Homo sapiens: one gene and its partners. The protein of the gene in region 5 purifies or fractionates together with the protein of the main gene of each other region. This does not show direct contact. Each region holds a gene or a part of one and is shown on either strand. Other genes may lie near its edges.

What was found.
Region 1: the proteins of POC1B (region 5) and TDP1 purify together in Homo sapiens (affinity purification with mass spectrometry; one large-scale study listed by BioGRID and IntAct). This does not show direct contact.
Region 2: the proteins of POC1B (region 5) and TDRD3 purify together in Homo sapiens (affinity purification with mass spectrometry; one large-scale study listed by BioGRID and IntAct). This does not show direct contact.
Region 3: the proteins of POC1B (region 5) and KDM4A purify together in Homo sapiens (affinity purification with mass spectrometry; one large-scale study listed by BioGRID and IntAct). This does not show direct contact.
Region 4: the proteins of POC1B (region 5) and SPRR1B purify together in Homo sapiens (affinity purification with mass spectrometry, with the first as the bait; one large-scale study listed by BioGRID). This does not show direct contact.
Region 6: the proteins of POC1B (region 5) and WDR47 purify together in Homo sapiens (affinity purification with mass spectrometry; 2 studies listed by BioGRID and IntAct, with this or other methods). This does not show direct contact.

The regions. Positions count from the first base shown.
Region 1 is NC_000014.9:89,983,191-89,986,941, forward strand, and holds part of TDP1 (tyrosyl-DNA phosphodiesterase 1), read left to right. Parts: exon of another isoform or gene 1-86; intron 87-1,325; coding exon 1,326-1,493; intron 1,494-1,941; coding exon 1,942-2,020; intron 2,021-3,751. UniProt on the Homo sapiens protein: DNA repair enzyme that can remove a variety of covalent adducts from DNA through hydrolysis of a 3'-phosphodiester bond, giving rise to DNA with a free 3' phosphate.
Region 2 is NC_000013.11:60,526,217-60,529,967, reverse strand, and holds part of TDRD3 (tudor domain-containing protein 3), read right to left. Parts: intron 2,607-3,751; coding exon of another isoform or gene 2,450-2,606; intron 1,602-2,449; coding exon 751-1,601; intron 258-750; exon of another isoform or gene 187-257; intron 1-186. UniProt on the Homo sapiens protein: Scaffolding protein that specifically recognizes and binds dimethylarginine-containing proteins. Plays a role in the regulation of translation of target mRNAs by binding Arg/Gly-rich motifs (GAR) in dimethylarginine-containing proteins.
Region 3 is NC_000001.11:43,687,942-43,691,692, reverse strand, and holds part of KDM4A (lysine-specific demethylase 4A), read right to left. Parts: intron 2,780-3,751; coding exon 2,598-2,779; intron 849-2,597; coding exon 644-848; intron 198-643; coding exon 121-197; intron 1-120. UniProt on the Homo sapiens protein: Histone demethylase that specifically demethylates 'Lys-9' and 'Lys-36' residues of histone H3, thereby playing a central role in histone code. Does not demethylate histone H3 'Lys-4', H3 'Lys-27' nor H4 'Lys-20'.
Region 4 is NC_000001.11:153,029,617-153,033,458, reverse strand, and holds SPRR1B (cornifin-B), read right to left. Parts: upstream 2,257-3,842; 5' UTR 2,212-2,256; intron 1,133-2,211; 5' UTR 1,114-1,132; coding exon 844-1,113; 3' UTR 559-843; downstream 1-558. UniProt on the Homo sapiens protein: Cross-linked envelope protein of keratinocytes. It is a keratinocyte protein that first appears in the cell cytosol, but ultimately becomes cross-linked to membrane proteins by transglutaminase.
Region 5 is NC_000012.12:89,466,797-89,470,547, reverse strand, and holds part of POC1B (POC1 centriolar protein homolog B), read left to right. Parts: intron 1-53; coding exon 54-187; intron 188-2,862; coding exon 2,863-2,931; intron 2,932-3,625; coding exon 3,626-3,751. Other genes in the region: POC1B-DUSP6 readthrough, read left to right, coding at 54-187, 2,863-2,931, 3,626-3,751.
Region 6 is NC_000001.11:108,989,880-108,993,630, reverse strand, and holds part of WDR47 (WD repeat-containing protein 47), read left to right. Parts: intron 1-2,301; coding exon 2,302-2,377; intron 2,378-3,751.

The DNA of each region.
Region 1 (3,751 bases), on a different chromosome or scaffold from region 5:
AGGTCCTCCACGTCTGTCCAGCCCAACCTGGTCATTTTACACACGGAGGCAAAGGCCCAGAGAGATCACAGAGCTTACCCAAAATGGTATAGTCAGCTAGTCGATCTGGGTCCAGAACATGGGCTCCAGCCCTCATCACACCATGCTACCTCCTGTGCTAAGTGTCTCCCCAGGGTGGGAAGCAGGGGTATGAAATGCCCCTTGCTAGAAACTTGCAGAGTTGAGAAGATGTACGGCCGAGAGTCCTTGCAGTTCTGGATGCCTTCTGCCCTGGTGGCCTGCATCTTGCCAGTCTCCTTCAGGGGCTGCCAGGTGAAAGAGAAATTGGGCAGTTTCTCTTTCAGCTTAATAGATAGAACCCAGGGTGGGGAAAAGGAGAGTAGCCACAGAAGGGGAAAAAAGTAACACCTGATACTTTTGACTGCTCCTGTAAGTCATTGCTTTGCAACAGCCCAGTGAGGCAGCCTTGTTAACCCCACTTTTTTGCATTTGAAGAAACTGAAGCACAAGAGGTTTGAAGCCATTTTAGTAATCTACTGTGGAGCAGTTTATAGAAGGATTGGGATTAGATATGATTGTTTTCTATTTATGGATATAATGTAGAAGTTTTGGCAAAGAGCATTGTTTTCCTCTAGGGAAAAAGAATTAATGAAATGAAAGATGTCTGTAATGCTTCTTCAGTGAATTAAGTGTTGAAAGTTTGAGGTTATTGTAATGTCACTGAATGTGATATATACTTAATCCAGGCACCAGAAAGTATAAGACATAAAAATATGCTGCTATAGGACCTACGTTATGAAAATGGGTTTGTTAATTGAAAATAGATTTTTCACATGCACTTTTGGTATAGATAACACAATTCTTATTTCACATTTGGCTGAAGAGCTGCATTGATGCAGACAAGGGCAAATTCTTGCTTGGGATTACCACTAGTAGCATGGATTTGCTTTAACCGTTAAGAGTAGAATTCTTAACTCTTGTCATCAAGTCTTAGAAAGCAATATATAGGTGCAGAGGTAAGAGGAGCAATAAGGAAGGTTTGGCAAGTGAGAGGGAGCATGGAGGGATGTGGGTTGGAAGAGGTGGGCAGAGCCCAGGTCTTACTGAATCTTAAATTCATGGCAAGACATTCAGGAATAATTCTGAATGTGATGAGAAACCATTGGAGTGGTGTTCTCAGATTTATGTTTCATGTTTCCTAAGATTACTTACCATGTGGAGATACCGAGAATTCACCTCTTTCTTAGGATGAAGGCATAATCGATACAGAGATCATTATGATCAGTTGTGTGCCTGACTGTTAAAGGTTATTTTTTTAATTCCAGAATATGGTTGAGCCCCTTATACCCACGAATTGCTGATGGAACCCACAAATCTGGAGAGTCGCCAACACATTTTAAAGCTGATCTCATCAGTTACTTGATGGCTTATAATGCCCCTTCTCTCAAGGAGTGGATAGATGTCATTCACAAGCACGATCTCTCTGAAACAAAGTATGTGTCAGCTTATCAATTTGGGGTGCTTATGATAGGCTTATACCTTGGGAGCCTCATGAGGTCTGGCATGCAGGGGCCTGGAAAGAGGTGGGGTGAAATCTAGCCAAGCTTCAGGATGTGATGAGGGGATGAGCAGATTCTATCACATCTGTATCTTGTGGTTCTCAGGCATTAAAGTGACAGCCAGTGAATCCTCATGTTTACCTTAGCCTCCCACTGGGTTACTCTCACAATTATTGAGTTCTTTGTCTGGTACTTTACATCTTGTAGGCATTCCATCATTAGTTGATTTGCTTGAAAATGAATTTGAGAGTCAATTCAAGAAAATGGATTGGCTCTTAGATCATTTCTTGATTATATTAGTTTTCATGTGTATTTTGTCATTTTTTTTGGTGCCCAAAGCACATCACTATATTTTATAACTTGTGTTTTTATGTCTTTTTAGTGTTTATCTTATTGGTTCAACCCCAGGACGCTTTCAAGGAAGTCAAAAAGATAATTGGGGACATTTTAGACTTAAGAAGGTAACAGAACTTTTACTATTTTAACATTTTTAAAAAATTTAATGTATATTCTCTCTTTTAAAATAATTATATATTTTGATGCAGCTTCACAATATTTCTGCACAATTCTGGGCAAATAGATACTTGATAAATTGATAATTATAATTCTTAGTAATTACTGCTTTTTAATGTGTTTTGCCTCTTTTATAGCTGTAGGCTGTTAATGGCATAAATATATAGACCTTTTCTAGTTTTTATATTGTAATAAAGATAGAGGCTTCCTATTCATACACATACTGTAGCTTTGATTATAGCTTTTGATTGTTCAGCATATCAAGTTTTAAGATATAAATTCAACAAACAGAAAATGTTGAGTAAAGACTACAACTGAGCTATAATATATTTTGATTATTAAACCAGTGCCCTTAAGAAAACAAATTCAAAAATAATACTTGCTGCTGATATGAAAATGCACGAAGAAAGGTCATAAAATAAGTTGAAGATTAAAGTTTTTTTCATCTCTTTTTAGGTGGTTTACTGACCTTAATAAATTCCCTGGCCAGGTGTGGTGGCTCACGCCTGTAATCCCAGCATTTTGGGAGGCTGAGAGGGGCGGATCACAAGGTTAGGAGTTCAAGACCAGCCTGGCCAACGTGGTGAAACCCTGTCTCTACTAAAAATACAAAAATTAGCCGGGCATGATGGCAGGCACCTGTAATCCCAGCTACTCGGGAGGCTGAGGCAGGAGAATCGCTTGAACCCGGGAGGCGGAGATTGCAGTGAGCTGAGACCACACCATTGCACTCCAACCTGGGCAACAGAGCGAGACTCCGTCTCAAAAAAATAAATAAATTCCCTAAAGTGGCTTTCTTAAAAGCCTTAACCTCTTATTCCATAAACTATTTAAAGTCTAAGAATTTTCCCTTGGTTAATGAAACTTTTTATTTTAATTTCCTTTTATGAAATGAGACCACAGCTTAAAGCAGGCAAGATCTTGAAGACATCTTTATGTCTTGGCCTAGAGAGGAAGTTCAGCACATTGGCCTGTGCCCAGTCTTGGAGGCAGATATCCATAGCTGGGTTCAAACCCTGCTTTGTTATCTACAAGCCGTGTGACCTCGACTTGTTCCTTAACATACATCGGTTGTCATCTATAAAGTGGACATAATAATAGTACTTCCCTCCCGTGATTGTGAGGATTAAATGAAATGATGAATGTAAAATAGTACAGGGCACACAGTAAGTCTTCAGTGCACATACACAGTTGTTTGTGGACAAATGTCTAATGGTTTAGATAGGCTAGATAATAGCACGTATTATGTGTGATCACCATCTGATACTGAAAGTTCAACTGTATGTTAAGAGTTTTCAAACCACTTTTTACACACAGTTGCTCATGTTGCACCACAGCTTTCTTCCAGGAAGGCCGGCCGGTGATTAGGTGCCTGTTTCCACTGAAGTGTAAATCTAAGCCAGAGGCTTGTCCAGGATAGGGTGGCCCTTCAGGGGCTGAGCACTGCAGTAGAAACTGGGTGTTGTAAGTTGTCGGTTCAGCTCTGTTTCCTACACCATGCTGTACCCAAGGTGGACATGGAAACTTTGGGCTTTTTGGGAAGTGTATGTGTAAGTATTAATGCCTAACCTGTGTTAAGGAAAATAATACATATTAAATTAAACAAAACGTCAGTCAGATGAGCTACAGTTTATTTTTCTGCTCTCTCCAGCCCTCTAGGTAGGCATTCAGTACATATT
Region 2 (3,751 bases), on a different chromosome or scaffold from region 5:
AAAAAATGTGCAAAGTCCCCTTCTCTCTGATGGTCCCTCTGTCCCTTTCCCTTTCTTGCTCTCACTGGGCTGGTCTTCTATCTCTTGGGTAGGCTTTTACTTGACCCACTGCACTCTTTCTTGCCCTCATCTTCTGTCTTTCCTTCCTTCTTTCCCCTACAATTTCTTTCTTTGCCTTTAGCCACCATATAATATAAAACTAAAAATTGGTTTAATAATTTTTACACTCGATCTTAGCCAAAAGGCCGAGAAGCAATGGTTTAATAATTTTAAAATTATTATAAAATAAATAATTAACTTATATGTTAACTTTTTAAAAAAGTAAGCTGAATGTGTACTATTTTCTTCAACTGAAAATCTGCAGAATTTTACTTTGTGCCTCTCAACTGATTTTCTTCCTTGTGAATCAGTGTAATTTTACCAGAGTGAAAAGCAAACATATGTAATTCAGTTGATGATAAGTAAAATAAAGCTCAACTTCACATAATTACTTTTACAATACTTTTCTGGCATGTAAGCTAAAACCAAACCGAACTTAACCAAATCTTACGGGACAGATTGTCCCTAGGCATCCATAAAAATATTAAATATTTTGTTTATCCTTTATATATCTATAAATCTGTTCAAAGATTTTAAACAGGTACAATAGTAGAAAAAGACTCATAGTTCCAAAGTGACAGCTTCTATAAAGTCCCACTAGAATGTTACATTTCGTAATATTAGTGTATAATATCTTTAAAGCATCCATACCTTGTTGTCTTCCCAATAAAGTGCAAAACATTCATCTCCAGGTTTCCACATTTTTGCATACTCCATAGGAATAGATGATTCTAGTATTTTTTCTGGCTTAATTGGCCCAGATCTTCGTTTGGGCCCACTATTGTAAAATATTTTATCATCACAGGGTACAGCTGTGACAGGTCCTGCTGGCTTAATAGGTCCTATTCGTCTTCCTTTCAGTGGCATTTCTACTTCTCCATTTGGAACACCAATGAAACTATTACTTCGAACTGGATTCTGATAATCAGTATTTACATTAAAATGTTTTTCAATTTTTATACCACTGAAAGCTTCATTATTTATTGTTTGTGATTTCCTGTCATAAAAATAATCAGGAATAGATGTTTGGCTTTCTCTTTTTCCACGTTTTTGATTATTATAATCTACAGATCCTTGAGGAAGTGGATTTTCTTTTGCCTCTGCAAAGGAGGGACCTTTTCCTGATCTGCTTTGCATAGAGTTATCTCTTTTTTTAAAAGCACCATCACTATGCTGAGAACCTAAAGGATATGAAGTATCTTTAGTTCTGTCATATCTAGAATACGGTCTATCACATTTGATTCTGTCTTCAGCCCATACTTCAGATACTGAAGAAGTACTTGGTCTTTCAGAACCTCTATTTCTAGGTAATCCACTGCCTTCTAAAACTGACTTTGAATTTTGGGAGTCTCTTTGAAAACGAGGCGGTTTTTCATTTCTTGGCTGCCTGGTATCATTTCGAGGAGGATGTCTCAGATGATTATTATCTTTTACTCCATTTTGCTCAGTATTTGATGATCTGTATTGTCCCTGATGAAGCTGCTGTGGCTGTGATTTAGGTTCTGAAAGGTAAAAGTATACCATATGCAAATTAAGATGAAGACTCTGCATTAATAATTATTTTAAAATGCTTTATTCTATTAATACAAAATTATCAAACTACTATTCTAAAATCTTCTTCCATCTTCCTACCTCATTATCTTACTCCTTCTTTGCTTCCTTGGAGTCCTGCATTTCTAATGTACAGTTTTCTTAGTCAGCAACATTAATAAAGTAAAGTAGTAAAAGGGACCACAGAAAAATGATGGATAATCCAAATTCTTATAATACAGCTACCTACATATGCTATTCTGGTAAATCATTTCCTAAAACATTAATGAAATAGAACTGCAAATTGCTAACTCAGAAACTGCTATGAAACTGCACAAGTACAACCCTGATCAACTCTTTCTGAATGCCACTCTAATTTAGAAATATATAGCTATTATTATCAGTCATGTTCTAGCCTTTGCAAAAATGTTTCTTTTCAAATCTTTCTGGATCTGGAATTGCTAAGTGTTTACGTTACAAACAGATATCCTACTATAAAAAAGAGTTTATGTTACAAATAGATATCCTACTATACAAAAGGGTTAATTTTCTTGATCTGTTAAAGTAATTAAGAGTGGGTACTACTTGGAAATACAGAAAAGTGTCAAAAGTGGAAATACCGAAAAAGTGTCAGAAACATTACTAAGCATAATACTGCCTATAATGTCCAAGAAATAACGTGATAAATATAGAAAGGTAATTTTTAATGACTGTATTTCACATAGTGATTTTTATTCTGTTTCAATTTGTACCATGTCATTTATACTTTCTTCCTCCATAATTTCACATAGCATGTCTATAACATGATTACCAAACATACTCATTGGTCTTTGGTGTATGTGTCTTGTTTCCTTTGTCATACATCATAATCAACATGCAGCTGTAATTATTCTTATATTTCCCCAAGGTTACACTTCCAAAGAGGGCCTCCACTGACATCTTGGGTGAGACTGTTCCCTCTGTTGCAAGGAAATTAACTGCAAGAAAATTAACTTCATTGGCCTACAGATATGAAATGCCAAAAGGACCCTCCCCCAGCATCCCCAGGGATGTTGACTATCAAAACTTTCCCCAAACATTTCCAAACAGCCACTGGAGGCCAAAAGGTATCTGGTAAATTGTTTAAAACAACAGGAATAAAGGTTTAAAGGTTACTGAGTGACAAAACAGGTCACTGATTAAAGATCAAGACTCAAAGTGGTCAGGCCAGGCATGGTGGCTCACACCTGTAATCCAAGCACTTTGGAAGGCTGAAGCAGGTGTATTGCTTGAGGCCAGGAGTTCGAGACCACCCTGGGCAACATGGTGAACCCTTGTCTCTACTAAAAATACAAAAATTAGCTGGGTGTGGTGGTGCACACCTGTAATCTCAGCTACCTGGAAAGCTGAGGCAAGAGAATCGCTTGAACCTGGGAGATGGAGGTTGCAGTGAGACGAGATTGTGCCACTGCTCTCCAGCCTGGGTGACAGAGCAAGACTCCATCTCGAAGAAAAAAAAAGACTCAAAGTGGTCCAAAAAAATCCATTCTCAACCGAACCAATGGAAGCTAGAAGCCAAAAGGCTTTAAATACTTTTAAAATTATGGAAAATTTTCTAAGGAAAAAAATTAATCCAGTCAAACCACCCCTTAACTGTGACAAAGAATGAAGATTTTTCTAAGATATAAGATTTCAAATATTAGCCAAGGCCATAAGAGAGATCTTTAAAAAAAAAAAAAAAAACTTTCCCCCAAGAATATCTGCCTAATAAACATAACACAATGTCTTATTTTAACAAATGCAGTCAATATTAAATTTTTCTTTAGAGAGAAGAAAAATGGTCACTTTTAGTTTCTGCTGGCATTGTTTACTGCCCAGGAGTAAAGATTTCGGGAAGAATAGCAGTGACCATAATCAGGACACAAATGAGCACTTTCAGCAGAAGGCATATATTGGCTTTTGTTCCAGACATTTTTATAAAAGCAGCATTTGCCTCCTGTTGATTATCTGCTATGTATTACATAGCCCACACTAGCACTTTATATACATTATCAATAGTCTCCAAGATAGTTTTATGATACAGGTGTTATGAGGCTTAACAGAGAGAGGTAAACTAAGGTCCCTTGTATAGTACATTGAATAA
Region 3 (3,751 bases), on a different chromosome or scaffold from region 5:
ATCACCGCGTACCAGACCCTATGCAGACTGCTGGGAATACTGAGTCCAACATGAAATCGTCTGGCCCTGAATATGCACCAAGACTCATGGTGAAGACAGTAACAGTGTGGGATCACTCACCTCCTCTAGGGCATTGGCTGAACACCGAGAACACATCCAGTCTTCAGAAGCCTTTGCAGGGGGGACCCCATAGCAACCTAACAGGGACACCAAGATGAGCAAATTAAACCCAGTGGTCAGAGTCAAAAGGTAGATTTGCAATTCCTTTCCATATACCACCTCCCAAAGCTACAACCAAATCTCACAGAAACCCCTTAGTTTTCTTTAGTCTGAGTCCCCAGGGCTCAGGCATACAGTATGGCTCAAAGTCTCAAAAAGTCAAAAACTGTAGATTCACTGGTACAAACACCTAGTAAGTGGCAGGGACTAATCCCTTTCTGCTATCTGCAACCAAGAGGATGGCAAAGAGATGACTAGTGCCAGTATGGACCCCTGGAGACAGTGAAAAATCAGCTAGCAACAGACTCCCCAATAAAACATCAACAATCTTTTTGGGGCTGGGAGGCCAGGAGGTGGCAAGAACTTCCAGTGAGCAGGCCCATACTCCTGGGACAGGACACAGAGAAAGGTGAGCAGCACTCACTGGCATGGACCCGGACGCTGCACTTCTTGCAGGAAACGAGTATGCTGGTGCCATCCTCCTCAAGATAAGGAGTAGAAAGGTTGATGTCCGTGCTGCAGCCAGTCGAAGTGAAGCACATTTCTGGAATCAATGGCTTGGTCCTCTGCTTCTGGGGGGCTAAATCTGAAGCATTTCCACAGTTCTGATTAAAGCCTCCAAATTCAACCTAAGGGGAAAGAACAAGTGTACACCTCAGTGAGCACGTGCCTATGCTCTTAGCTTTCCACCTGCTCTATCAGCAGAAAGCTGGCTCTCTTACCGATCTGACTATGGCTACAGCTCCCGGGTGCACAGCCATTATCCCGGAGCTGCTAATTGAAGTTACCTGTAATGACTCAAATTCAGTTTCTCACAGCAGCATCATACAAAGGCCCCTAGGGGACAACTGAGAAAAGGGAGCAAGGTAAGAGGCAACTGGGATTTCAATCTTCCCAAAGAAAGTGGTTAATAAAATGCACTGAGAGGCCAGGTGAGGTGGCTCACGCCTGTAATTCCAGCACTTCGGGAGGCCGAGGCGGGTGGATCACCAGAGGTCAGGAGTCCAAGACCAGCCTAGCCAACATGGTGAAACCCCGTCTGTACTAAGAATCCAAAAATTAGCTGGGTGTGATGGTGTGTGCCTGTAGTCCCAGCTGCACTCCAGCCTGGGCAACAGACTGAGACTCCGTCTAAAAAAAAAAAAAATGCACGGAGATGTTAGCAGCTAGGCTGCTACTGTGGGCTCCCTTACGTGCTACACTGTGCGGTGACCCCACCTCAGGAGTGTACCCAGAGCAGATGCTCCTAGTAGGCCAGCACTAATTGCCTCTTGTGCCTGTCAGCAGGTCACCTGAACTGCAGCACTGTCACATGGCTGGAGCCCCACCTGTGTGATTCCTGGCTCAGGGTCCCTCCAGGAAGAACTTAAATCCACATACTTCCCTTGGCAAACTATACTGATTGCAAATATCTGCTGGATGGCACCTGCATCTCCATTCCAAGGATGAGGCCCAGAAAGATGTCAACCCCAGAGCCTATGCCATTTGTGAAACTCCTACTTAGTAGATCTGCTTATAGTAAGAACCCAGCCATTCACTCCCCTCATAGGCAAAGGCTTTGGTTTTGCTTTTTGTCAATGGAAAGGTTTAGTGAGTTCCTAATCCAAAGTGTGTTGGTCTGAGGTTCCATTTTCAGCAAGCATGAATCTGGGGCCCTGCCAGGCTCAGCGGCAGCCATGCCACTTTAACCACCACAGCAGGTAAGGACCACTTACCTACCTGCTATGCTGTGCAGGTCCCAGCTGAGACTGAGCTGGTCCCTTGGCACCTGCTGCTGTGAATGCCTTCCTGGCATCCTAGAGCTGGACCCAAAGAGATCCACCAATGAAGCCACAGATGCCCCAGAGCAGGAGGCACACAGCTGAGCTCAGCAATCTTGCTTCCCAGCCCCTCCTCACATATCAGGCCCTTGCTTCCACCCCTCCCAAGTTCCTTCTGCTACTGGCAACACGCATTGTGGCAATGGGAAAGGAAAAACAACATTAGAGGATCTGGCTTTTCAGCTGAGGTTCAGACTGTGGTAAGGAAATCACAGTTCTCCACCCTGGCCAGGACTATAAACCACTTGGCAGGAATAACCACGGACTAGAATAACAGAAATGCAGATTGCTCTGCAAACTGATGTCTGTGATGACTGCATGTGCAAAGGGGAGCCTAAGCCCACCCTCAGCTCATCTCCAAAGCATTCTCAATTGAAACCCACGTTGCTGGGTTATCTGCCTGGAGAAGACTGACCAATACACAGATGGGGCAGAGAATGCTGGGGGTGGAGGTGGCCTTTCCCAAGACAACCAGTGACAAGCTATATACTCACAATTAAATCTAGCTTCCCTATGATTGCTGGTCCTGGGTAAACAGAGTGCATGGAGCTGGGTTACCTGATGATAAGTCTGGAAGATCATACAGACAGCGCAGTGAGGGGCCTGTTGGGCCATGGTCTCATTGAATTCCTTCTCAGCCTCAAAGTTTGGAGGTCGGTTCTGCCACAGTTGGCTCAGAGGCTTGGCCCAGGCCTCTGTCTCCTCAGCCTCTTCCTCAGGGGTCAGCTGTTCAGATGTCTCTAGAGGAGGAAACAGAAGTGTGAGTCAGCACTAACCCTGCACATCTGTGGCTCTGCCTGGAGAACAGATGAGTTCCACTAGGACTCCTGATCCTAGGTTTGGACCAAGGGTGACTCCTGAATTCCTAAGGATGATAAAGGCAAAGGGTGGAAGCAACTGTCAATAGACTCCTTCAGTATCTTGATGATGTGTAGGGAGTCCTGCCAGTACCCCATTCTCTGGCCAGACTGACTCATGGCCTCCATTCTTCCTCCTGCCCCACGAGCTCAGCTTGCTCTACTCTCCCTTAACAGCTGCCACATTCAGCCCTTCTGCCCAAGGACAGCAGAATGAAGCACCATCTTGCCAAAAACCATCTTATTTGCTGCCTCCAAAACGTCAGCCTGTTAAGTCCTTTACCTTTTAGAGTTTTCCCTTTAGTGCAACTAAACAAGGAAGGAAAATAACAGGGAATTGGCAAAGCTTAAAAGTTGTAATATCATGGTCCTTGGCCAGGACTTACCAGCTTCCTCTGGAAAGGTCAGCAGTATGTACCTATTCTGGACAAGGCTCCCCAACCCCTCCTAGAGCAGAGCTACATGTCCAAGATGAATCCTCTTCCCAGCCACAAGATGTGATGCCTGACGCTGGCAAACAATATCCTGCAGGCTGAATCCAGCCCACTGAGGAAGCTAAGAATTGTTTTTACATTTTTATGATGGGGTCTTGCTATGTTGCCCAGGCTGGAGTACAGTGGCTATTTACATGTGCGATCATAGCTCACCACAGCCTCAAACTCCTGGGCTCAAGTGATCCTCCCATCACAGCTGCCCAAGTAGCTTGGACTACAGGCATGAGCCACTGCACCCAGCTTTGTTTTTACATTTTCAGCATTGGGGCTTAAAAAAAAAAAACAGTGACAACCACAGAGACCAATGAAGACTGTAAAGCCTAAAATACTGACTTCCTGGCCCTTTATATATCCCTGGTCA
Region 4 (3,842 bases), on a different chromosome or scaffold from region 5:
GCCCCTGGCAAGCACCTTAAATCCCCTTTGTTCTGTTTCAGGTCCAGAGTTGGCACTCAGAAACTAGAAATGACTAACTGAGATAAAGAACGGAGTCTGTGCATCTTTGGAGGTGTTTGGAAATCTAGGTTGTAGATATCAGAGAAATGAGTGAGAAGGAGCAGGTTAGCATATGTAGGAACAACATTACTTGAAATAAACAGGAATTGGCTGGTAAGTTAGCAGTCTAAAAGCCAGATTTGGAGAGAAGGCAATCAGGATTAGTGAGTCAGAGTCAGCTTAGACAAGTGCTAACTAAACTCTAGCATGACTCACTGAGTTGCAAGAGGAGAGCCCTTTTCCAGCCCTGGATGCCCAAAGCAACAGCCTCTAGGTGGCATTACACAACCTCCCATAGGCAGCCCAGGAATGCTTGTGGGGGCAGCCCTTCACCCTCCTAATGTGAGCATCAGATGCCTTCTGGACAAAGCCCTTCTTCACCAACTCATCTCTGTGTACAGCTCCCGCTTCACGAGGGAAAGGAATGAAGTTGTAGAGTCAATGACACACAGTCAAGAGTGGAATTGAAAGTGAATTTAATGGGGGTATAAGGGAGCTGAATCATTTGCTTTCATCTTAAGTCTCTCTTCAGATGAATTCTGAGCAGCTGAAAACTAGCTCTGGTACTAAGACCTTCAGCTTCATTCAGAGACTCAGAGTGTGTAGGAAAGAAAGCTTCATAGCACATTCTTTTTTGGGGGAGACAGAATGCTAATTGCAAGGCAAATGGGACTCATACGCAGAATGGGATAGGGGATTCAGCATCTGGTGGCCGGCTCCTCAAGGGCATGGCTGTGGACCACATTACTTCTGCTTGGTCTTCTGCTGGGCTGGTGCTGGAGTGACTATTGAAGGGCAGGGCTCAGGCACCTTGGGGTGGCATGGCTCTGGAACCTTGGGCTGGCAGGGCTCGGGCACTTTGGGGTGGCAGGGCTCAGGCACCTTGGGGTGGCAGGGCTCCTTGGTTTTGGGGATGCATGGTTCCTGAGGTGGAGGCTGGCAAGGCTGTTTCACCTGCTGCTGCTGAAGCTGAGGGGGTGGGGTGCAAGGCTGCTTCTGCTGCTGGGAACTCATGCTGCAACAGTGACTGGTCCTGGACACAGAACAGATGATTTAAGCAGAGAATAATAGGGAAGAAGCCATGGTGAATACCACTTCTGGTCTCTTAAAAAGCTATGTTCTTTCCCCTTCTTGACCACAAAGAATACTTAATTTAATTTCTGAGCCTTTGAAGAAGAGGAACCTAAAGATGATTTGCTCTTGCTCCACTGGAGCAGGGCCTCTCCTGGTGCTCTCTTTCTTCCTACACAGCACAATAACAGGCTTCTAGCAGGAATATGAGACTCATAATACTGGACCATTGGAAATGTGAGGTTCTTTGGAAAAAAAAAACCCTAACAAATTAAATCTACTCACTCATTTCTGATAAATAGCATGGCTTATCATCTATTGTATAACTCTGACCTCTCTAGAACCCCAAGCAATCCCACCTGTGGCCTGGCTCAAGTTCTCCTCTGTCTTAAATGTTTTCCTTGTTCCTACTCATTCAAGCACTAACCAAACTCCACAGATCGCTTCATATGGGACTTTTAGTGGCTTCTCTAGAAAAAACCTTCCAGAAATCTCTCTATTCCCAAACTGTCACAGAACTTGCCCTAATCACCTGGCACTGATAAGTTACTGTTATACAATGCATTTTAGCTCTTATTTCCTGATTAAATTGTAGTATCATAGATGCTTAAATTATTTCTTTGCAAACAAATTGCCAAATATAGTAAGCTCTCACAAAAGTATCTGTTGAAAGAATAAAATTCTCTGTATTAAAATTATAAATAAGAAGGAATTATAATGCCAGGGTAAGTGCTGTGGACCTGGGTTCTAGTCATTATCCCATTACAAACTTACTATGGATCCTTGAATAAACCAACCCCCTTCTTGCTGACACAGAAAGAGTGAATGAAGAACTGATAATGTCTAAATTCTCTTCAAGCCTACAGTATGAACACTTTTAAAATGAAGATATTCCTAGAGGTTATAATTCAGTTGAACAGTCTGCATGGCTATGATCAAATTCAATAATGAGGGAAAAAAATACCAAGAATGCCAAGGAGACTCTAATAAAAATTAAATACCTAGAATGGATGCTAAAGAGTTCCAAGTAAAGAGACTCACCTGGTGTGAAGAGAGGAATACTCTGTATGGTCCCTTAGAACTGGTGTAGTGTTCCCAGCCAACTGGCTTTTTATGCATGGAACAAGCCCTGCCTCAAGGAAACAGGATCCATCTGGGCTGCTGTGCCTACATTCCTTACCTGTCAGATGTGATTCACCCCTCTTCCCTCACCCACCTGTTGACTCAACTTTTGTGATGAAACTTGTGGCACTTGCTGTCTGACAAGGATGTCACCTGGGCTTTATCCCCCTGAACACCCTTTGCTCCCAGGTGTAGTGTTTACAGGAAGGGTGGTGTGGGCTGAAAGAGAGAGAAGGAAGACATTCTGGGGCTGCTGGAACCAGAAACTGTCCTATCTTCTGGAAGAGTCTAATCCTCAGCACAGGTGACACTTGTAGGGCTGTTTAATATATGAAGTGGATGTAGAGATAAACAATAGGTATTTCTGGTTATTCTGGGAGGCCAAGGGCATGGTGGCTAGGTGAAAAATAGTAATATTCTGTTAATCCATCACTCAGTATACTCGTGCCTGGCAGGGGAAAGGAAAAACTAAAATGATTATTTCGGTTCTAAAAAGCCTTTTCTCCAAGGAGGAACTCAGGGTAAACAACATAGGGGCAGGCTGACCTCAGTCTGTGAAGGAGAGTTCGGAGCAGTGAAACTCTGGGAAGAATGGTCACGTTCGGAAGCTCTGGAGCAACCTGGCCCTTTTAGTCCATCCATTTATTCTGTACATTGTGACAGTAGGCCCTGAAGACCCTGGCTATCATGGGGAATCCCTTCTCTGCAGCCAACATGGGAAGGAACAAAGGAGCTGGGATTCCCTGAGCCCTTATATCAAAGTTCACTCTCCTCAAGATAAGATGAAACTTAGGTCACTAATCCAGGTCTACCTGCAGTACACAACCTGTTGCAAGTGTGGTTTTTGGAAAATCCAAACTATCCTTCAAATCCAGGTGTCGGATGGTCCCTCCCTCATTATTTTCACTCATCTAAATGTTTGTAGAGCAACTGCTGGCTGCACAGCTGTGTCACCTCTCATGAACTTGAGCCCAGGACCAGCCAGCTACCACCAGAAGTTCCTCTGCTTAGCCATTGTTCTACCTTCCATCTTCACGTGATGCCTGGTGTGTAGTAGCTGCTCAGAGAATTGACAATTATAGAATAACTGAATGAATGGAAGGATGGAGAGATGGGTGGATGATGTTATTCGTGAAGAGACGCCAGAGGCTGTTTTGAGAATTATCAGGAAATTTTTTTATAGGGGAAATCCTTCCTTGTGGCAGGCCTCATGGTATAAGCTGAGAAAAGCTGTAAGAGCTTAGCAAGAGACAGATATTTCTGTCATTTTATCCATTATGATTTGGCTGTTGCCCCACCCAACTCTCAGTTTGAATTCCCACGTGTTGTGGGAGGGACCCGGTGGGAAGTAATTGAATCATGGGGGAAGGTCTTTCCAGTGCTGTTCTCATGATAGTGAATACGTCTCAAGGTATCTGATGGTTTTGGAAAAGGAGGAGTTCTCCTGTACAAGCTCTCTGTTTGCCTACTGCCATCCATATAAGATGTGATGTGCTTCTCCTTGCCTTCTGCCATGATTGTGAGGCCTCTCCAGCCATGTGGAACTGTAA
Region 5 (3,751 bases):
TCAAAAGTAAGAATTGTTCTCTGAACTTTTTGCTTTTATTTTCTACAAATCAGTTCACAGCGGTGGAGTTAATTGCATATCATTCCATCCTTCGGGTAACTATCTCATCACAGCTTCTTCAGATGGTACCCTTAAGATTCTGGACCTCTTAGAAGGAAGGCTCATCTATACACTTCAAGGACATACGGTATTAACACTCAGATTCTTGCTTTTTATATATAAAAATATAAAATAATATATATTTTAAATTTCTGATCCATTTTTATGTCCCTTTATTGTTTTTCCAGACATAGCACACATTGCTGCTATCATAAAATTTTTTTACTTCCAAGGCTGTTTTTATCCTCTGGAAGCAACTCTTAGAAATATTATTTGTGGCTGGGCGTGGTGGCTCACGCCTGTAATCCCAACACTTTGGGAGGCTGAGGCGGGCAGATCACCTGAGGTCAGGAGATCGAGACCATCTTGGCCAACATGATGAAACCCCATTTCTACTAAAATACAAAAAATTAGCCAGGTGTGGTGGCACATGCCTGTAATCCAAGCTACTTGGTTGGGAGGCTAAGGCAGGGGCATCACTTGAACCCAGGAGGGGGAGGCTGCAGTGAGCTGAGATTGCACCACTGCACTCCAGCCCGGCAACAGAGCAAGACTGTCAAAAAAAAAAAATGGAAGAAAAAAAGAAATATTATTTGTTGTAATTCTTATCAAAATCAATGTGTATCTTTCAATGGCCATTAAATGAATCTTCTCCTGCTGTCTTTATCAGTATGTTGTATAGATTGACTGGGTAAATGGTGATGGGTAAGTAGATTCCATACTTCAGATCCTTCCTTCATGTGGAGGCTGTCCCGCTTAGCCCTGACACCCAGCCTCTCACACCTCTCCCTCACTCCTTCTGCTAATTTGTTGGTGGGTTTAGGAGAAATTGGGTAAGCACAGCCTAACACCTTCTACTCTCCTGCCTTTGGGAGTAGCCATTCTTCACTGTTTTTCTCTGATATTCCTTGTGGGGAGACCTGCCCTTGTCTAGTGTTGCCTGTGACTCATTCTGGGCATCCGTTCTAGAAAGCCTATTTGTGTTACACATAAAAGCCACATTCTCTTTTTACAAGCATTTATTAGAAAGAAAGGTGATATTTCGATTCTTATGTGCTGTATTCCTTTGTCTTATTTCTCAATTGGTTTAGAACCAAGTAGGTAAGAGGGGTGCCTTTTATTGAGCCTGTTCAAAGATCCCTCCCTGGCATATAGATCAATTTTTTAAATTTATTATTTCTTTATTTTTGAGATGGATTCTTAGTCTGTCACCCAGGCTGGAGTGCAGTGGCACAATCTCGGCTCACTGTAACCTCTGCCTCCTGGGTTCAAGTGATTCTCCTACCTCAGCCTTCTGTACAGGCGCACCACCACGCCCAGCTAATTTTTTGTTTGTTTGTTTGTTTAGAAGAGACAAGGTTTCACCATGTTGGCCAGGCTTGTTTTGAACTCCTGACCTCAGGTAATCTGCCTGCCTTGGCCTCCCAAAGTGCTGGGATTACAAGTGTAAGCCACTGTGCCCAGCCTAGATAAATTTTTTTGAGTATATAAACTAGTCTTTTCTTCCAGACAATATTCAAACTTCTCTGAATTTTTTAGAATGCATCCTCTTTTTTTTTTTGAGGTACTTCCTTTTAACAAGTATAAGCTGTTTATATCTAGAAATAGAATGAGCCTTGTGGTCTAGAAGAGAAGAGTTTCTTTTTCACAGGTTCTGCCTGGCTTCCTGCTTTGCGTTATCATTTATTCTGCAGTGGTGTTAGGGTAAAGCAGAAATAAATACTAACCAGCTTAAATATATGCATATCCATGGATTTAGGCTGAATAAACATAACAAATAAAAGTGGCCAAGGATTGAAATATCCATGAAAAAAGTACAAAATAATAGGGAAAAAAGATAAACACAGTCTTTCAGTAGGAAAACACTACATGAAGATGGAATTTTAGTCTGGAAGTAAAGGTGTTTATGAAGCTATTAATATTATAAACTAAATCTGTGGGATAGTCTACTTGGGAAAATACAAGATGTTTTTCCCTAAAACTTTTCTTGTACAGATTAAGGACATATTAAAAACATATGGTATATATTAATATTTTTGAGATAAGAAATACTTACTCTTATCTGGACTGAAAAATTGACCTAGAGGCTATCCATCTTGTGACTGTGCCAAGCACAGTCTTGTCCAACTCCGCAGTAACTGCTCAATTTCAGGTTTTCATTACCTCTCACCTAGATAATTACAGGAACTTCCTAACTGGCCTCCAACCAAGCATCTTACTCCAATTCATCTTTCTCAGAATTGTGATACTGATTTTAATCATTCACAGCTCTCCTCCTATCTGTGTTCTGCTCTTTAAACTTTTAGTGGTTTATGGTTGCCTACATGAAGGGGGAACTCAGTGAAGCCCATTGGTCAGGAAATGGACTTCATGTAAATAGCCTCATTCCCATTACCTACATATTTATCATTCAGTTTCTGCTAGTGATTGGTTGAATACAGAGTCCAAAGCCAGAAAATCTTAACAGAAATTCTTATGAACTTACATATGTAAAAGCTTTTCTTGAAAGGAGAAAAAAGTTATTTTTTTAATTAATTTTTAGTATTTTTTTAGTATCATTTATTTGTGTTTTAATATGATTGGGTTGATTCTTTGATTATCTTCACTCTGCCAGCATTAGTTGCTAGCAACTGATGTGTTTTATTAGACTTATTGCATGAGTAGTATGCATAAATTAGGATGAGAAATTGATATCCATAGTCTTCTTGGCCATGAGAAAGCATTACCAAGTACTTTTTTTCTTTATTTCCCTTTATTTCTCAGGGACCTGTCTTTACTGTTTCATTTTCAAAAGGTGGAGAGCTATTTGCATCAGGAGGTGCAGACACACAGGTTTGTAAATCTTTCAGCTCCTCTTTGATTTGGTTAAGGTAAAGGAATCCTTGACCTCAGCTAAGAGTTTTACAACCAGCTAGTTTGTGTATGTTAAGATGTTTGTCAATGAGTTTATATTTTAATTAGTACCATGAAGTCTGCTATCTCATAGCTGAAACAGAGCCAGTTCTAAATTTTGGGAACTCAAATAGTTATTTTCTTTTGCTCATTTTACACTTAACTATACATGTAACTGACACTATATGTCCACTTTCAGTAATTATATAGCACTTTTGCTTGAATCATTGCCTTATCTTAAGCTTCTTGAGGATGGTAAATATAAATCATTTATATACCAAATCTGCATTTATCTGAAATGACCAAAAGTCATTCATGGCCAGATTTATTGAATAAAGTGAATGACCAGTCCAAAACATGGTTTTGGGCTTTGACCAAAAAAAAAGAGGATTTTAAGATAACCAGATATTTTCTTAATATGAATTTTAAACCAGACATGAAGGCAATTCAAAATGTTAAATCTCTCCCTCAACCACACCTTAAAAAAAGATATTGAGAAATAGTAACATAGTTGAAATATATATCTACCCTTCCTACTTTGGGAGACAATTCTGTATATTGTGGGTTTTAAAATCAGCTCTATTGCTTGTACATGCAAGTCAATAACTGCCAACATCATTGACTTTTTTCATAGGTCTTATTATGGAGGACTAACTTTGATGAATTGCATTGTAAAGGTCTTACCAAAAGAAATCTCAAAAGATTACATTTTGATTCACCACCACATCTTCTTGATATCTACCCAAGAACACCACATCCC
Region 6 (3,751 bases), on a different chromosome or scaffold from region 5:
GGGACTTTCCTCACTGTTCTGCTGGGATTTCCTTTGCCTCATCTCTTTATTAGATTCCCTGTTTTTAGCATCTCACAGTTTCCTGAAAAGGGGTGCCTTAGAGGTGAAGTTTCTGAGACCTTGCATGTCTAAAAATGTGTTTGCTTTATTTTTCACCTTTTTTGTTAGTATAGCTGGGTATAGAATTCTAGGATGAAAATCATTCCTCAGTATTTCAAAAGCATTGCTACATGATCTTCCAGTTTTAGTGTTCTGATTAAAAAGTCTGATGCCATCTTGATTCCTCATTGTCTTTTTTTTTTTTTGAGACAGTGTCTCACTTTGGCTCCCAGGCTGGAGTGCAGTGGCGCAATCTTGGCTCACTGCAACCCCCGGCCTCCTGGGTTCAAGTGATTCTTGTGCCTAAGCTACCCTACTAGCTGGGACTACAGGTACATACCACCACACCCAACTAATTTTTGTATTTTTAGTAGAGATGGAGTTTCACCATGTTTACCATGTTGGCGAGGCTGGTTGATTCCTCATTCTTTGGGTGAGGCCTATTGCTCCTTCTACTCTGGAATTTTTCAGGTTCTTCTCTTCCCTGATAGTCTGAAACTTCATGATGATATAGAAGATAGACCTTAGAGTGATTCTATTTTTCCTTATTCTTCTGGGTATTTCATGGGCCCTTTTAAGTTGGAAACTTAAGTTCTAGGAAATTAAAAAAATATTATTTAGCAATTTCCTCACCTCTATTTTCTATGGATTTACTTTTTTTTTTCCTTTTAATTACATTTATTTTAATGCTGAATTTACTCCCGTGCCATAAGTTTTTGTTTCTTCAGTTTCTTCTGGGATATCCTTTTCTTCTGGGCAACCTCCTCTTCTGGTTTAGGAACAATCTGTTCCTTTTCCGTAAGGATCATCTCAATGTGGCAGGGAGAGCTCATGTATGGGTTAATCCGACCATGAGCTCTGTAGGTCCGGCGGCGCATCTTAGGTGCTTTGTTCACTTGGATATGCTCAATGACCAGAGAATCTACATCTAAACCCTTAAGTTCAGCATTACTCTCTGTGTTTTTAAGCATGTGCAGCAAAAATTCAGCACTCTTTTTGGGCCACCGACCTTGTGTCCAGCCCCACTGCTTGGCCTGCGCACACCTGCCAACTCCACCATTGTAACGTCGGAATGGTACACACTGTTTCTGTAAAGTGACATCTTTCAGATACTTCGTGGCTTTTCGTATATGCATACCCTTGATGGCCTGAGCAGTTTCACGAGTGTTCTTAAAGTGAACACGAAGATTGGAACCTCTTGATTTGCATGATTCCGTGGGGTTCTCCGGGTCAAGTGAATAGCGAACCATTTTCACAGATTACCTCAGGCTGCTTCGGATTTACTTTTTTCTACCATCATATTTTAATTTTCTAAGAGGTCTTTCTTATTATCTAATTTCTTTTCCTTTTTAAAAAATAGATCTTGCTCTTGTTTCCTTATTAATCTGTTATTTCCTCTTATATCTAAGGATTTAAATTACATTTTTGTAGCTTTTGTTCCCTAAATTGCCTCTCTTCTCCCAAGTTCATTTTTCTGTTGATTTTAGTCTCTACCTTTTATCTCGGCTTTTTTCAGGTATCTAGAAAGCTTTGGCTGGCCGTAAACAGTGAGACATTAAAACAAAAGCTGGCTGGGTGTGGTGACTCACACCTGTAATCCCAGCAATCTGGGAGGTTGAGGTGGGAGGATTGCTTGAGCCCAGGAGTTCGAGAGCAGCCTGGGCAACATAGGGAGACCCCGTCTCTATTATATTTTATAATATTAAATAAAAATTTTAAAAGCTGATTGGAAGGAAGGGCTACATATGTGGGTGGATCTGTCTGCTTGTTGGCCTCACAAAAATTGATTAAGAGGAAACATAGTTTTACTAAGGTACCCTAAACTGTAAGTTTCTGATATTTTTTTCTCTTGGGCCAGATAATTTTCCTGAAGAGCATTCTCCAGTGTCCTGTCTGGGGTTGGATTTAAGCATAGCAAACAGGATTCTGGAACTAAGCAAGGGAAGGGTACTTGACATCTCACTATAAAATATGTGGACTTTGACTTAATTTTCTTTCCAGAATGGCTTTTCATCTCCTCCTTACAACTGTCATTGGTGCCACTGAATCCAGAGCTTATTTTAATAAATGTCTCCAGAGAGTAACTTTGGAGTCAGCTAGGATTGTTTGCTAAAAAGAAAAATTAGTGTTTGAAAGGGTAAATTAATTTAGTTTCTATTTTGATACATGGAGTAAACTTTACTTGAATTTCTACTCCCACAGCTCTTCAGAACATTCGGTCATTAAGCCACCTCTTGGAGATTCTCCAGGGAGTCTTTCAAGGTCGAAAGGGGAAGAGGTAATACTTTGGGGAAGGAAGTTTTATTGTTTTCATATGCACCTGTAAATTTTGCTAAGAAATTTTCAATTCAAAGAAAGAACCATTTTAGTCAGACGTGGTGGTGTACAGTACCCAGGAGGCCGAGGCAGAAGAATGTCTTGAGCCCAGAAGTTTGAGATTGTAGAGTACTAGAATCGCACCTGTGGATAGCCGTTGCACCACTCCAACCTGGGCAACAGAGTGAGACCTCGTGTCTTAAAAAAAAAAAAACAAAAAAAAACCCCACAAACTTTTACTGCTAATGTTGGTATTTATCTCGAGGCTCAAGGCAGTTGAGCTCTCAGTGGTGTAACTGAAGAGGGAGCCTTAGAAAGCACAGTTGGACACGTGGGAGTGTTCATATTAATGGCCTAGTAGTGGCCTTGGGACATGAATTGAGGCTCTGTGTTATTCTCTGAACCCTATGGTTAATTTCATTATTGGTATCTCTTTGGGCTTCTCATCGGTACACCTTTTTTTTTGCTTTGGAAGCAAACATCCTTTCCTAGCTAGTATACAGCTTCACTCTATCTTACTTTTCCTAGTTCAGATTTTAACCCCATAAACAAAGGTGTTAATTTGAGATGCTTTTAGGGATGAAATAGATAACATAAATTAATAAAATTGACCATTTTTATGATAAGCACAAAGGAATATTTGTCCCTTGCAAAAGAAATATGCAAGTCCAGTGTTTCCAATTCCTTTGATTTAAAAAAAAATATTAGGCCAGGCATGGTGGCTCACACCTGTAATCCCAGCACTTTGGGAGGCTGAGGCAGTTGGATCATCTGAGGTCGGGAGCTCAAGACCAACCTGGCCAACATGGCAAAACCCCGTCTCTACTAAAAATACAAAAATTAGCCAGGCATAGTGGTTCACGCCTGTAATGCTAGCCACTTGGGAGGCTGAGGCACGAGAATTGCTTTAACCCAGGAGGCAGAGGTTGCAGTGAGCCAAGATCGCGCCATTGTACTCCAGCCTGGGGGACAGAGCAAGACTCTGTCTCCAAAAAATATATGTATGTATATATATTAATAGAGACATGGTGTGACTACGTCACCCAGGCTGGTCTCAAATTCCTGGGCTCAAGCAATCCTCCCACCTCGACCTCCCAAAATGCCAGGATTACAGGTGGGAGGCACTGCACCTGACCTGATTTTCAAGAAAAGCTAGAAATCTAGATTTTTATGTGAAATCACCTAGTTTTTTAAATGACAACAAATTTAAAAAAATTTTAAGGCTGGATGCAGTGGCTCACTCCTGTAATCCCAACACTTGGGAGGTCAAGGCAGGTGGATCACCTGAGGTCAGGAGTTTGAGACCAGCCTGGCCAACATGGCGAAACCCAATCTC